3 separate regions of the Homo sapiens genome follow, and regions 1 and 2 are each linked to region 3. Evidence: fine-mapped expression QTL. A gene starts in region 3. Each other region holds a variant in brackets. All regions are shown on one strand. Distances are from middle to middle. Region 1 overlaps DENND1A (DENN domain containing 1A). Region 2 overlaps DENND1A (DENN domain containing 1A). Region 3 holds the start of DENND1A (DENN domain containing 1A).

The links. PIP is the estimated chance that this variant, and not a neighbour inherited with it, causes the effect. A credible set is the group of variants that fine-mapping cannot tell apart.
Region 1: its variant is the best candidate, but not a certain one, in a credible set for the expression of DENND1A in testis (GTEx, PIP 0.70).
Region 2: its variant is the best candidate, but not a certain one, in a credible set for the expression of DENND1A in testis (GTEx, PIP 0.56).

The regions. Positions count from the first base shown.
Region 1 is chr9:123,413,336-123,418,559 of GRCh38, reverse strand. The region is part of intron 19 of DENND1A (DENN domain containing 1A); the gene reads left to right. Among named protein-coding and RNA genes, the nearest start is that of MIR601, 13 kb to the right of the region's middle. The variant T/C (reference allele first, on the strand shown) is at 2,979.
Region 2 is chr9:123,629,021-123,634,244 of GRCh38, reverse strand. It overlaps DENND1A (DENN domain containing 1A), which reads left to right. Exons shown (of 24, transcript NM_001352964.2): 10 at 3,769-3,869. Among named protein-coding and RNA genes, the nearest start is that of MIR7150, 150 kb to the right of the region's middle. The variant C/T (reference allele first, on the strand shown) is at 3,109.
Region 3 is chr9:123,927,477-123,932,700 of GRCh38, reverse strand. DENND1A (DENN domain containing 1A) reads left to right here and starts at 2,575. Exons shown (of 24, transcript NM_001352964.2): 1 at 2,575-2,812. The coding sequence starts at 2,796. RefSeq lists a silencer at 2,349-2,838 and enhancers at 3,189-3,388, 3,018-3,703, 3,639-3,718, 4,769-4,818.

The DNA of each region.
Region 1 (5,224 bases), 510 kb after region 3:
TTTCCACCCTGCAGCCCTGTGCGGGGTGCCCACTCATCCATGCCACCCAGGTAATTAAGTTGCTATTCCAACGCGCCTTCCCCTCCTGACCTTTTGGAAACAATGTGTTTTGCTGCATCAACAAATGAACTGCAAATCAGATGCTGTCCTCATAAATGCCGGTTTCATATCCAATGAGCATACTCACCTGGCCCACACAGCTGACAGATAGAGATGCCGAGGGCCAGGCAGAGACCAACAAAGGCCAAAGAGGTCCCCTCTTCTCAGGGACTTCTGTGTCAATCATGCCTTCGGTCTTACCCTCTCTTGTGTTCACATCTCCCAGCAGTGGTGTGGCCAGGGCCGGTGGGTTGGCAATATGGAGGCCTGGGCAGGCTCCTGTGATTGGAGGGGAGTGTCTGTTCCTAGGAGCATACCCCATCCTCCTCCAATGCATTTTCTATACCAAGGACGTCAAGGTTCCTCTTATTGTGTCTCTGATTATATCCCTCCCACTGAGCTCAGAAGAAAATCCGCAAATTCTCAGCCTGACATTCAAGGCCCTCTTTTTATCTGACCTCCCCCAGCCCCTCCCAGGTCCTGGCCTGCCCTGTCCTCATATTCAGCCTCACTCTTGTCTGATTGGACCACTGTGGGTCCCCTGTCCCTGCACTCCCTACCACTGCCCCCCCCCCAATCTATGGCAGAGACCTTCCTGTGTACCCCATGCATGACAGCGCCCTCTACCAGAGTCTTGGTGAGACATGTGCCCCTGTGCCTGGGATGCCACGCACTGTTTGTTGAATGAATGGACAAATGAATCAGGTGCCTCCTTTGGAAAGCACCACAAAAAGATGCTCAAATAAGGAAAGAAGGAGAAGGTGACAGTTACTCTCTCATCAGCCTTTTCTCTGAGGCACAGATCTCTAACAACAGATTCTAACTTCAGAAGGGACAAGGATTAGAAGAACCGTGTCAGAAAGGATTCCAGGTGACTTTGGAAATTTTAGTTGACAAGGATAGCACAATGGGCTAAGAATACCTGCTTGTTTTAGTTTTCGCTACTAGCTGTGTGACCTCATACTAGTCCCTTAACCTCTCTGGGCCTCCTGTTTCCTGTCTCTGTAACAGGGAAATAATCCTTCTCTAACTTGCCTCACCAGGGACTGTGAGGTTCAAAAGAAAGAACAGAAGTTAAAATGCTTTGAAAGGAAAACACATCATATAAATAGAAGAGATTATTATTAAAATCCAGTGTCCTTCAACAGAACCTTGCTGATAGCACACAGCTTTGGAAAACCAGGGTCCTCACGTCCATAGGACTTTTCTGGAAAGACCTGTGGGTACCATGGGGAGATGGAAGATGGAGTGGTCCCATTTCATCTTCAGGATATCAAACCAGAACCTCGTGCGGCTGTAACTGTACTCTCATCCTCACACCGATGCTTGTAACCTGGGAGTTTTGCCATTTTACAGAAGAGTTCACTGAGACTTAAGAGAGATTAAATAACTCGCCTAAGTGGCAGAACCAATACTGAAGTCAACTAGAAAATGACAGAACCAACTCGTGAACCCATGGGTTTCTAACCCGAAGTCTATTTCTTGGGGTTTACCCCACCAATATTTCTTTCACTTTAAGAAGTTATTTTCCCATGGTGTAGGTCAAATCCCACCAGACTCTGCAGTCCTCAAGGACAAGGACTGTGTCTTATTCTCTGAATCCCCCTGGTCCTGGCCCCCAAATACTTAGTTGTTCCATAAAGACACACAGGAGGAATCCTTCCACTCTGTGACAGTCCATCTGCTTCCCCTCCAGATGTGTTTTTCAGGAAAGCAGGCACTTTGCGTTGACCATCGAAGAAAACTCCGGCCTTCTCCCCGCTTCGCCGGCCCTCTCTCCCCTCCTGCCCTGGCCCAGCTCGGGAAGTGCTGGAGGAACTGTCGAATTGAACTCTCCTTAGCAAAAGATCGCCAAAGGCCCAGTCTTTTTGAACTGACTTAAGAAGCAGCAGTCTGTGTAGCCACATTTCAACCCGGCCAGGGGACAGAGGATCACATATAACATGACCTCAATGCAAAGATGCCCAGACTGCTTCGATTCTCTGCTGCATCTACTTTAAAGCTCTTCCAGTTTTACCTTCCTTTCCTTCAGCGGTGGAAAGAGCACTCAAGCGGTCAGCGGTCAAGAGGCCTTCCCGATGACAACCAACACTCCCAGCTCTGCCCATTACCAGCTGGGGGTGTTGAGCAGCTCGCTTTACCTCCCTCCAATCTGTTCCCTTTTCCATGGCCACTAGGACACTTAGCAAGGGCAGGAGCACCAGCGTGAAAGAGGAGCAGGCTCAGGGGCCCAGCCCTGGGCTGTGGGCTGGGGATGCAGACAACCAGAGCTGAGTCAGATGGGAGAGGAACCACTCCAGGTTCAGAATAACTTTCACTGAGTCCTGGCCAGCTCTGCCGTCCTCTCGGGCCTCACACCAACCACACTGTTGTAGTCCCTACATTCAGCTAGTGCTGGCTTCAGCTTCTAGAGCACCGGGGCCACTCTCTGGAAGAGAGCATGCTTTTCTGAGTTGATCCTTTCCTAGCTCATCCCCTTACCCCCTCTTCCCACCCAAATCACTACTACTCACCTCCTACAGTGTTTAATGGTCTCCAGACTACTCTTCCCCATCTGTGTCCCCAGCTGGGGACACCCCAGCTTATTTGGGAAACTGCAACCACCATGGCCGATGGCCCCACCACGCCCTGTCTAGGAAGCAGAGGCCTCCCCAGCAGCGTGTCCACTGTGCCCCTGGCCCTGCGTGAAGTGCCATCAGATGCCCCGCATCCCTGCAGCAGGGCCCTCGTGACTGGCCTCACAGATGAGGACACAGAGGCCCAGGGAAGTCACTTGCTTGCCAAAGTCACTCAGCAAACCAGCTAGGCCTGGAGACCCTGCGGTGGGAGCAGGAGGGCCCTGCACACAATCAGATGTTCTAGTGTCCGAAATCTGAGAC[T/C]GCTTCCCACGGGATTACTGTCTAATCCGCTGGTGACAATCCAGCTGCTCACCTGTCCCCAGCCTCAGCTCTGGTCCCCAGGGCCTGCACACTCCTGGCAGGGCATCCTGATAATTAGTGCAGCCCTCCCCTTCTTCCTCTCCCCAGCCCCAGGGTGGAGGGTCTTCAATGCGCACCCCCTGGGAGTTCACCTTTCTCTTCCTGGCGGCCACCCCACAGGAGGTGTCCCCATCATATGCTCCAGCATCATAACAAGCCCAGGGTCGGTGAGTGCAGCCCCCGTCCCTGTGTGTTTCCTCTGGTGACAGGATCCCCTCGTGCCGACAACCCGCAGGGAAAACTCCCCGAGTGTCAGAAGGGGCAATGTGGCTTCCTGTTCTTGGTTGCCGTTGTTGGGTTTTATCTGACTGGGTGCGCCAGGACATCTGTACCACGTTACTCTTTCTTGGCATCTTTATATCCCGCTGGCTCACTCTGCTAACTTTTAGAATGGGTGTGGTCAAGAGGCTGCTTTCTTCCCACCATTTATCAATTCAGTTGCAAAACAGCCAGCACTTCCCGAGGACAAGCAAAAGAAAATGAGTTAATTGAAGAATCTGGAGAATTGACATTTGGTGTGTTTTTACATGTGCCAGGAAGTTTAAGCCAAAAGTAATTTGCTGAGCACCTATTAGGTATCAAGTACTCTACTAGACCCTATGGTAAACAGAGAAGTGAGTGAGCTGATAACGACAGCCGGTGTGCTGTGGATGTGAGGCGGGGTTTTACCAGAGATGAGATTGCGGAGGTGGATGGCGGGGCCCTGAATCTGGAGGGCTTTGAACACTTCAGACAGCATTTTCCAGGGGATATTCATGGGTGGTATAGGGAAAGCAAGTCTATGTTCAAATAAACTTGGGAAATAGGACTTTTTAAAAAAGAGTTAATAGGTTTTTGCCTGGTTTGGGTGGGTTTTTTTCTTGCAAGACTCACCAGCCTTTGCTATGCTAACAGGCGTTGTGAATCCCCAAAAGGAGCAAGACAGAAGACAGCATTTCTCAGATTTGCCTGGCTGGGGAACCTCCTTTTTTCCCTTCACACAATGCGTCTCCCAGGATGGTGTTTCTCAGCAGACACCCTGTGAGATGCCGGCCTTCCACTGAGATGATTTCATCTGCCAAGTGCCAAGACTGGGTGGACATTTTTTTAAGTCCTCTCTGGAAACAAATGTAGGCGATGGACTGGGAGGGGGAGAGGCTGGAGGCAGGGAAACCTGCTGATGGTAATGGTTGCTAATGTCTGTTGGTGGCACTGTGCAAAGAACCTGACGTCCATCATCTCGTTGAATCTTCCTAACAGGACACTCGGGTAGGCAGTGCTGTTACCTGTACTTCACAGATGAGGACAGTAAGGCTTGGAATGGTCAAATCGTGGGCCTGGAGTAACCCAGGGAGTAAATGGGAGAACTGGGGTTCTCTCCAAAACTGTCTGACCCCTAGAGGCTGCCTCCCGAGCGCTCTGGTGCACTGCCACCCAGCAGGAATGGAAATAGCCCAAGCCAGAGGTGACAAGCAGTGAAGACAGTGGGGCTGGAGAAGATGGTTCCCCCGAAGTAGAAAGGCCAAGCATAAGAGAAGCAGTATTGTGGGGAGTGGTGTAGGAGAGCTGGGTGTCTAGACAGGGTAGCAGCCTGTGCACCGGTGGAGGGGGTGGGCTCCCCTCTCCCTGATCACCTCTTCCTCTTGATGAATGGTGTGAATTGAGGGGTGGGGGGGCTGTTCCCCTTTCCCCCACACACTTCCTGTAAGCCAGGAAGGGGAAAAAACATGGTGGCCTTGCCCATCCCTAGGCAGCACCCCCAACTCCCGGGTAGCTGTCAGCTGAAGGGTCACCAAGCATGGGTCAGCCCTCACGCCCAGCTAATGGCATAGGATCTGGGAAGCCACGGTGTCATTCTATCCCATCGTGTTCTCCATGTGCCGCCAGGGAACCCTCCACCAAGTCCCTGGACCCGCTTTCCCCTCAGGCTGCCCCGACAGGTTCCATGCAGAGCACCAGGGACCCAGGGACAACTGGGACACAGGCCCTGCCCTCCAGGAGTAGTGGGGCAGGTTCAGAAAACAAATTCTAAGGCAGATTTGAGATCTGAAGTGTCACTCCCACTCAGTAGAGCCCTATATCAGCACTGTCCAAGAAAAACATAATGGGAGCTTCATACGGGAGTCACATGTGGAATTCTGAATGTGAAACATAAACAGGTGAAATTG
Region 2 (5,224 bases), 300 kb after region 3:
AAAAGCTTGATTTTTTGTTTTTTTGTGAAGGATAAGTAATTTTAAAATCTTGGCATTGAGGTTGGTGGGTTTGCTTTTGAGGTTAAAAAGACATGAAAAGAACATTATCTGAAGATGAGATCTCTGCTACTTTATGTTTAAATAGGCTTTTGACCCAAACCAGTTTAACCTAAAAAGAGTCACATAATCAAGTTCTGTCTTAACCAGGTTCATTCTATTAAATGACTTTTTCAAAGAGAATCACAAATTAATTCATGTGATGATGTTACCTTCATTTGTATGGGACCTTGTAGATTTTGAAGTGCTTTTATTTATTTATTTATATGTTGTGGAGTTAGAGAGTAGGCATATGATTGAATGAATGGGCGAATGGATGAATGAATGACTTGGTTTTCCAAAAGTGCCATGCTTGTGTGTCTAAGCTTGCTGTTTTTGTTTTAGACATTTTTTCCTTTCTTTCTTTTTTGGGGGGACAGAGTCTTGCTCTGTTGCCTAGGCTGGAGTGTAGTGGTGTGATCTCAGCCCACTGCAACCTCTGCCTCCTGGGTTCAAGCAATTCTCCTGCCTCAGCCTCCCGAGTAGCTGGGACTACAGGCATGTGCCACCATGCCTGGCTATTTTTCTGTATTTTTAGTAGAGATGGGGTTTTGCCATGTTGGCCAGGCTGGTCTTGAACTCCTGATCTCAAGTGATCCGCCCACCTCAGCCTCCCAAAGAGCTGGGATCACAGGCGTGAGCCACCGCACCCAAACTGTTTTAGACTTTGAGTCATGTACCTTACTCTGTGAGACTCATGGGAATGTTGATACACTTCTGTTAAAAGCCAAGTTACTAAACTGTCTTTGTACTGTGAGTATATTCTAAGTAAAAATCATATTTTATTTATTCAGGACACATCCCATTAACTAGTGCACGTGTGTGTGTTGTGTGTTCTGGGCCACTGAGAACATGGAGGTGAGGACAGGATCTTCCTGTACTTTACAGTCAGGAAACAAACATGCAGCCAGTTATGGTCCAGTTAATAATGGGTGCCTATGGGCTGGGTGCAGTGGCTCACGCCTGTAATCCCAAGACTTTGGGAGGCCGAGGTGGGTGGGTCACTTGAGGTCAGGAGTTTGAGACCAGCCTGGCCAACATGGCGAAACCCCGTCTCTACAAAATATACAAAAATTAGCCGGGCATGGTGGCACACACCTGTAGTCACAGCTACTCAGAAGGCTGAGGCAGGAGAATTGCTTGAACCTGGGAGGCAGACGTTGTAGTGAGCCGAGATCGTGCCACTGCACTCCAGCCTGGGTGACAGAGTGAGACCCTGTCTCAATAATAATAATAATATTATTATTATTATAATAGGTGCCTATGCACAGGGAACCAGGGAAGACTTTGAAGAGGAAGTACTTACACAGAGACCTGAGGGAGGAGTTTGCTAGAGGCACAAATCCAGGCCAGTTTGGGGGACGGGTGGAAAGGGATGGGAGGAAAAGGAGTACATGACTCTATCTAAGTGATGTATTCCAAGGACAGACTTGGAGAAGATGGTACAGAGTGTGGCTACAGATGGCTGCTGTAAAGCTAGACCGTGGGCTGGTGGAGCCATCCGGGCCAGGCTTGTCCCCAAAGACTTCTGAGTAGGAAGTGATGGGCCGGAACCTGCACTTGAGGAGGAGCGCTCTGGCAGCTAGTTAAAGATGAGCAGAAAGAGCTGAGACCCAGGGCCAGTGGAACCCTCCAGCCTGACTTCAGGGTGGAATCAGGTCAGAGTTGGTTCATTCTCCACTCACTCAACACCAGCAAGGACTTTTCATCTCTAAGAAGCCCTGAAGGGATTAGTTTTATATATGTGTATTTTTGTATGTGAGATATATATATCTATATCACCCTCCTTTATATGGGTACCTATGGAAATAGAATGTGAAGGGATGGGTTAAACCTGCGAGCCTTGACGGGGTCACTGGGAACTGTTCTTGGGTGCCTGCTGAATCAGTTCCAGTTCATGGCATGGACCTGGCTCAAGAACAGGGTCTGGAGGAAAGAGTCAGGGCAGGTGGGGGTGGGGAGTAGCAGCCCTGGCTTTAACACACAGCTCTCACAACTGTGAAACATCAGCAGAATATCCAATTTAAAGCTGTTCATGTTACACTAACCTCTGGGATTCTTTTAACTGGGCCTTGGCACGTCACTCTTTCGCCACGTAAATGTTCTTCTGTCAGCAAAGGCCAGTTAACAGCTTCCAAAAGAAGCAAAGTCCTCATGGGAACAGGCTTCCCTGAAACCAAAGAAACATTAAAGAAAAAAAGACAGAAAGAAATATGTGTTGTTGGCTTTTGTCACTTCATACCTATATCTCCAAAAGTTGTTTTTTTTCCCTTTCTTTTCACTATATTGAATTTTGTAGCAATTGTATCCCTTTGTAGTATCTTTGTTTCCTAAATTTTTAATTGCATCAAATACTGATTGTATGATGTCTCTAGCTCTCAAGAAAAAAAAGGAATACAAAATAGGGGCAAGTCAAAAGACTGTGGAGAGGAAGGATTAGTCAGTAAACAGTGCCAGAGCAATTGATTACCTATGTGGAAAAAATAAATTCTCACCTCAGTCCTTAAACCTAAAGTAATTCCAGATGGACTGAAGAGTTAAATGCTAGGGGAAAATTTGGAGGACTTTCTTGGGATAAAAGCAGTAGAAACCATCATGGAAGAAAATATTTGTCTACGTAATTATTTAGACCTTCTCTTTGCCCAGAAATTCAAAGAAAATTAAGGATAAATTATTTTCAAAACATTACAAAGGCTGGGTATTCTTTGCATTTCATCAGTGATTGCTTATAAACCAGTAAAAATTACTAATACTCATTTTTAAAGTGGGCTAAGAATATGAATAGACCATTTGTCTATTATATAAATATAGTGAAGAAACATATGACAAAATGTTCAACCTTAGTCCTGATCAGAATAAAAATAAAAGTAAAATAGGTACAATTTTAAAGCTACTAACTTGACTACAAGGAGTAGTGCTGGTGAGGGGCAGGGAGGCCAGAATCGTGGTGTATGGCTGGGGGTCGGGGGTGTAAAGAGCCTCCATCCTTCATCTATTCATTATACTAACATA[C/T]TTATGAGATATGTATTTATTAAGTGCCTTCAAATGTTTATAACCTTTGTCTCTGAATTCTACATTTAGGAACTATAGATACAAATTATTGACCTGTATGATGATATTACTTAATGGTAGTAGAGTAGCTAAATATATTAATAGCATGGGAAATTCATCGAGTATCATTAAAAGATATTTTTTCTAAGAATATTTAAAGAATATTCTGGATTTGTGCCTTTAAAGCATCATTAAGAGATATCTTTTTCTAAGAATATTTAAAGGAAAATGGCATCAAATAATGTTCACTTTTAAGAAACACAGAAGAATACTGTATAGTCATCCTAATTGTATTTAAAAGGGGAATATATGTGCTTGTGTGTGTAATAACCTACAATGTTAAATCTTCTGATGGTGTGGCATTTATTTTAATCCCTTTCACCATTTTAAAAATTTTCTATTTCGTATATTAGCTTTATCATCAGAAAAAAAGATTTTTTGAAAAGAAAGCTCTTACTAAATTTGAATTAGGGTGATTGAGTTAACTTAGAATGATTTCTCCAGGTTTTTCAGCTTATCATGTAAACATATTGAAGAATTATAGAATTGTATTGCTGAAATCAAATGGCGGTGTCTCCTCCCTTGGATTTGTTCATTGATCTCTGCTTTGCTCTGTTCCAGCTGACTGCCTGCATCCACGGGTCTGCGGCGATGCTCTACCCCATGTACTGGCAGCACGTGTACATCCCCGTGCTGCCGCCGCATCTGCTGGACTACTGCTGGTAAGGTGGCTGGCCCTGTCCTCTGCTTCTCCTTTGCCCTGATCTGACTGGGCGTGTTAGGTGTGTCACTTGTTAATGCAGTTGGTGACTCTACATTAAAAATATTAACTTCATCCAGCCTGGACAAAATAGTGAGAATCCATCTGTACAAAAAAAAAAAAAAAAAAAAAAGCCAGTCATGGTGGCACATATCTGTAGTCCCAGCTACTCAGGAGGCTGAGTTGGTAGGATCATTTGAGCCAGAGAGGTTGAGGCTATAGTGAGCTATAATTGTGCCACTGCACTCCATCCCGGGCAACAGAGTGAGACTCTGTCTCAATAATAATAATAATAGAAATACTAACTTCTAAGTGGCATGGATTTAAGACCACCTGATTGCACGGCCCTTTCATTTCCAGTTTTCTTATATGTCATGACACTCTGAAGAGTACAAGAGAATAGGTAGTAACTTTTCACATTTCTCAGTTTGGGGGAAGCAATGCACCAAAAGGTTGCGTGTTTGTTTGTTTGTTTTTTCCTAAGACAAATTGTAAACTGGGGACAAAAACAATTGAGATCTCCAAGGTCTTCAAGTTTCAGCCATGCCCTGGCACATTCCTTAAGACTTGTGCTCACTGTGGTTTGGGAGCACAAGCCAGGCAGCGCTAAACTGTCTGAAGTTCTTTGAGGAGAATTTCACTGTTCAGTGAAACAGACTTTAGTAGAAGGAAGAAACAAAGGTTTTGGCGACAGCCCTACCATCTTGGGCAAGTCACTTGGCTTTAAGACTTTGTTTACTCATCTGTAAAAGGAAGTTGTTCAATACATAATCATACAAAGATGAAACAAGATAACATATGAAAGGACCCCATGTAGAAAAGCTGGCTCATGGTAGCTCAGAAAATGTTTCCGCAGACACATCATCGTCCTCACTATCTGTCTTCAATAGATTACCAAAACAGACTGTCTTTGTGACCGATTTGGATCCCTTTTCCTCATGAATAATTTCTTTCTCTAGTGTAATGCAGTTAAAGACATTGTCTCCAAACAGTTCAAGTCAACAGAAGTCCGTAAGGGAGCATGGTACACAGACAGGGAAAGGCACTAACTGCGTGCCGGATATTGAGAGCTTCAGGAGAAGGGAAGCCATTTGAGGGTCATAGCCCTGTTGCTTAAGGACAGATGACACGGGACACTGACCACTGGTTCGGAGTGATTGAGTCCAGGTCAGTCATACTTTTGCTGGGATCTCCATTCCATTTTGCAATCATCTCACTGGAAAGGTCCACCCAAGTAGCCAGATTGTCCAAGGAGCTTGAAGGCATTCCACAGTCACTCCTAATTGGAACGTGCTGGGCTCACCCTCTTCCCAAGAG
Region 3 (5,224 bases):
GGCTGGAGTGCAGTGGCGTGATCTCGGCTCACTACAACTTCTGCCTTCTGGGTTCAAGCGATTCTCCTGCCTCAGCCTCTTGAGTAGCTGGGACCACAGGCGCCTGCCACCACACCCGGCTAAATTTTTTCTATTTTTTAGTAGAGATGGGTTTTCACCATGTTGGTGGTCAGGCTGGTCTTGAACTCCTGGCCTCAAGTGATCCACTCGCCTTGGCCTCCCAAAGTGCTGGGATTACAGGTGTGAGCCACCATGCCCAGCCACTGGTTGCCTTATTAATTTTAATAATAAAAGCCAAACGGTGCTAAGTGTTTTGTATATAATAGTTGCTTTTAATTTTTGAGTACTTAATATGTGATAATCACTGTTTAAATACTTTATAAATGTCACTAACTCACTTAATCCTCGTGTCAACTCACTAAAATAGGTCTATTATTATCACCATTTCCATTTTACAGACAGAGAACCTGAGACACACAGAGAAGGAATAATTCACCCAAGGCCATATATTTAGTAAGAGGTAGAGCTGAGATTTAAACCCTGGCAGTCTGGTTCTAGAGCCTGTGCTCTTTGCTCCTATGTTACACTCGCTCTTATGATGGAAGCTTCTCATCACTCTCTCTGCCCATTTTACGGGGGAGGAAACTAAAACATACACTTGTCTAATCATTTGCATAAAATCTGCCAGTCAATGCTGAAGCCAGAATTAGAAGCCACGTTCCTAACTCCCAGTCCAGTGCTCTCTCCTCAGACCACCCTGCTGTCTCTGAGGCCACCTGAGCAGACACATAATCCCCACCTTCTACCTCCCTCTCCAACACACACACACACACACACACACACACACACACACACACACACCCCACCCAGCAGGCACCCAGACATATTTGTGGCCAGGATGGCTACAACCTCCTTTGAAAAGCAGCCAGCTTTGCCCTCCACCAATAACTTTGTTTTATTTATAGTCTCCTGCTCAGAGCTTTTGAACTGGCTCCCATTCCAGGGAAGATCTTGATAGCAACTGTTCCTTGGAGAAGTTTCATAGGTGAATAAACACCACAGAGCTCCTGCCTGTCTAGCAGAGCTTTGCTCCTGGGGGTGTTTACAAGTCGGTATTGGTGTCTGGGTGCATAAGACTTTAAATTCAAAATGACAGTTTGGACATTTTCACTTTTTTTTTGGTTTTCATTTTAAAAAGTTTACCCTTTGACTTCAACAACCTAAAGGCAGAGGCAAAAGGGAGAAACTATCTTTATTCAGAAGGTGACTCCAACAGAAGAAGTCTTCTACGACTTATCTTCTGGCTTTCTTTCCTCCCATCCTGGCCGGGAGCTAGGACGCAGGACCAGTTACGTAGAGGCTATGGGGTGGGGGTAGGGTGGGGAGGCACTCCATGCATTTATAAGAACTAAAATGGCAGAAGTGATGAATGGCATTTCGGGACAGAAAATTGGAAAAAAAAAAAAAAAAAGGAAAAAAAGCCTAATATTAAAAATGTCTTTGGACTTGTGGCCAAAGGTGCCACCTTAAAGCATGACTATGTCACAGGTGTCTGGAATGATTCAGTCTGGACACTAATCTTGGCTTCTTCACTCGTTGCTAGTTATGTGACCTTGGGAATGTGGCTCAGTTTCCTCTTTGTAAATTAGGGAGATGAACACAGGATTATTGTGAGGATTGGCACTAATGATGTACGGAAATACTGTGTCTGATGCAGAAAGGGCACTCACCCGCTCATTAAAGGGTGGCTAATGGTAGCTGTGATTATTGCTTCCTTTATGATCCCTCTGGCCCTAGAGGGGATGAAATTGAGGTGTTCATGGAAGTGAATCCCAAGGGGGAGCAGGGGTAGGTAGCAGGCTGGTGATCTCGGCTCTCAAATCCTTTCATTTGCATTGAGTTAATCTCTATCAGGGACTGTTGTGTTAACAGGAGGCTTCGATGTTGGAGTTCCCAAAACGGCTGATAAAGGGAGGCAGAGGTCCTCAGCGGGAGGGCAGAGCTGAGCCACCACGTGGGTCCACGAAGCCCCCAGGTGGCTTTCCTGTAGGTATGTGGGGTCTCCTTCAAGCTCTAAGGGGAAAGGAAGAGGAAAGGCCTTCAGATGGGGAAGTGGACGGTGTGATGGAGAAGAGGTTCTGCACGGAACTTACTGGAAGGTGCGGGATGTTAAAGGGAAAACGTGTTTTCATGGAGGCCTGGGCGGGGGATTAGCTCTCCGTTAGAGAGGCTGGGTGGGAGGCCTCCAATGGGAGGATTGGTGGCGGTTTCATCGGGAGGGCTTGGGGTCTCCATGAGAGGATTAGGGTCTCTTCAGGGCGGCTGTGAGTGGAGGTTTCCAGCGGGGCGCAGTGGGGTGCAGATGTGTAAGGGCCTGCAACGGAACGCCAGAGTCCTCCGGGGCCCGCGCCCTGGGAGACGTGCGGGTGACCGCGCTCCCGCCCCGCCCCCACCGGCCACGGCCCCGCCCCCGCGAGCGGACTACACTTCCCAGCAGCCCCAGCGGGCAGCGGCGGCGGCAGCGCGGGCGGGAGGGGCGGTGGTGAGAGGCGGAGGGGGCGGCGCGCGCCGGGCACGCGCGCCGGCGACCATGGCGTTCGCCGGGCTGGAGCGAGTACATTAACCCCTGGAGGCGGCGGCGGCGGCGAGGGAGCGAGCCTCGAGCGGGCGGGCCCCAGCCTGAGGGAAGGGAGGAAGGGGCGGGGAGAGCGCCAGAGGGAGGCCGGTCGGCCGCGGGCGGGCGGGCAGCGCAGCGCCGAGCGGGGCCCGCGGGCCCATGAGGAGGCCTGGGGACCATGGGCTCCAGGATCAAGTGAGTGCGGCCGGGCCGGGCGGAGCCGGGCCGGGCGCGGGGCGGCGAGGCCGGGCCAGGGCTGCAGGCCGCGGGCCGCGCGGGGGACTTGTTGCCGAGACCAGAGGGGCGCCCCGCGTGACGCCGGCACGCGGGGAGGGGGACGGTTGCTATGGCGATCCAGGGAGGCGCGGGGGCGGGGTGCGCGCGGGGTGGCAGGGCGCCGGGGGTCAGGTGTCCCCTCCTCACCTGGGGGTCGGAACAGCTGAGATTACAGGGCGGCCCCCTCCCCGGGTTTACGGAGAGCCCCTGAAAATGGTCCTTCAACTGTGGGGAAGGGGAGTGGGAAAGCCCCGGAAGCACCTCCCCATGTTTGGGCATGTTTGGGGCGCCCCTGAAAGTTGGCAGGTCCGGAGAGGTTGCAGCCTGGCCGCTTGAGGCCTGCGGCCCCCACAGAAGTCGCGTGAGGTTCTTAGAGGGAGGGGCCGCTCATGGTGTGGCCACCTAAGGTGTGGATGGCCGGGGAGGAAGGCCTGTCTCTCTATTTCCCCCCTCTTATCTGTGAAAATCTCCACGCAGCAAGGTCCAAAGGCTGTGAAGGAGGATACCTCTGTGTTGTAACCGAGCACCTGCTCTTGATAATCGTTGGAAAGGCTTTGTAACTCAATCTGGCGAATTCCCTCACTCATTCATTCACCTGGAGTTCCCGGTGGAGGGTTAGCTTTCCGGGGAAATTGTTGATACATGTAACTTCAGAATCCACTGAAACATTGTTGCTGTCCTTGTAGACTTAGAAGTTGACTTTGGAAAGTGCAACTCTTAAGCGGTCCAATTTGGGTGTGTGGCTTTCGACTCTATCTCCCCTCCCAGCCAGGTCCTCTTGTGGCCTCTCCCTTCCTCTGCCCCAGAACTGGAGATGTTTTATCTCTAATTACTAACAAATGTTCACTTTTTCCTCTGTGACTAATAGAATTGTTTAAGGGCATTAAAAAGCAAAGTTGACAGCATAGGCTTTTCTGTAAAACAACTTTCCTAGGACACTTTAAACCCTCTTACAAGAAAGTTTGTGGAATGTGTTTATTTCAGCATTTTGAGAATTGTACTAGGGAAGTTTGAAAGGAGAAGGGCCTTAAGGGTGAAACTAATAATTATTCAAACATTGCATCTCATGTCCAGGTGATGCCCGTGCAGTGTGACCCTTGCCCAGCCTTGCAGTCCCCCGTGTGGTTAGGCTTCTCATTTACAAAATATGTATGAGATGCGCTGCAGCAGCCTTGAGACATCTGCTGAATGAAACTAGAAAAGTTTGCTTATGGTAATGAAAATGGAAGAGTCGCATGAACACTCTGTTAAATCTTTATTTTTGTGGAAATGAGAAAAAAGTTAGAAGCATGCTCCAAACAAGAGCTTGAGAGGCTTGGGAGGTAAAAAGATGTCGTTTGTGAAACATTGGGATTAAAGAGGCACTCAAGTTTAGCTCCTGCTTCCAAGTAAGAGTTGTAAACTTGGATTTCAATAGCACTTAGAAACACTTTCCAGAAGCCAACTTAGAGTTGCAGAGTATGCGTGAGGACACTTACCCTTCTTGTTACAGAAAAGTTCAGAAACTTGCCTGACATGAAGCAGTGAGTGTCAGAACCAGTATTAAAATCCAGCAAGTAAAAGTTCAGATGGCTAGCCATCAAATCTCTCTGTTGCTCTCCAAGGTAGCAGGTTGACAAATACATTTCTCAAATGTGTTTTGTGGAACCCATCGCTAATTCTGAGCACTTGGGTTAGGGAATTTACTAAGGCATGGAATTGTATTAAGCGTGAAATGAGTATGAAGAATAGCCTTATTGATCTTGAAACTAGACTACTCTGTGATAAAAACTTAGGCTTGGGAAATATGTTAGCTTGTGGTGAAACCGAAAGAGAATATGAAGAGAGAAGTTATGAAAAGTAGTTGTGATTTATAGTGACTGTTGATTATGCAACTTCTGCCTGTAGCTAGGAATGGGGATGGACAGGAAATTACCCACTTAAGTGCTCCTCTAGTTGTTGGAGAAGACAGAGCTTTGGTTACTACTGGCTGGCTTTCCCTCCTGGCAGGGCATTCAAGATGTTCTCCTGGCTGTGGTGAAATCTAAGTGTGCAGGTTCCATTGAATAGGACAGTCTTGGAGGTAGGGACAAGGGGGAGGGGTTCCTTTTGTTTTCTCTTGCTTATCTCTGATGCAGCAAGTCAGTTGACTAGGTGGAATCAGGTCTAGGTTCAAATTCCAGCTCTTTTTAATGCTAATTATGAAACTTTACACAGACTGCCTTTTCAACCTCAGTTTCCCTGAAGGTAAAATGGGGAGGACTGTGTCCAGGTTGTAGGGTTATTATGAGCATTGAACACAGTATCAATGTAAATGTCAGGTCCATGTTAAAAACTCAGTAATTGTTAGGT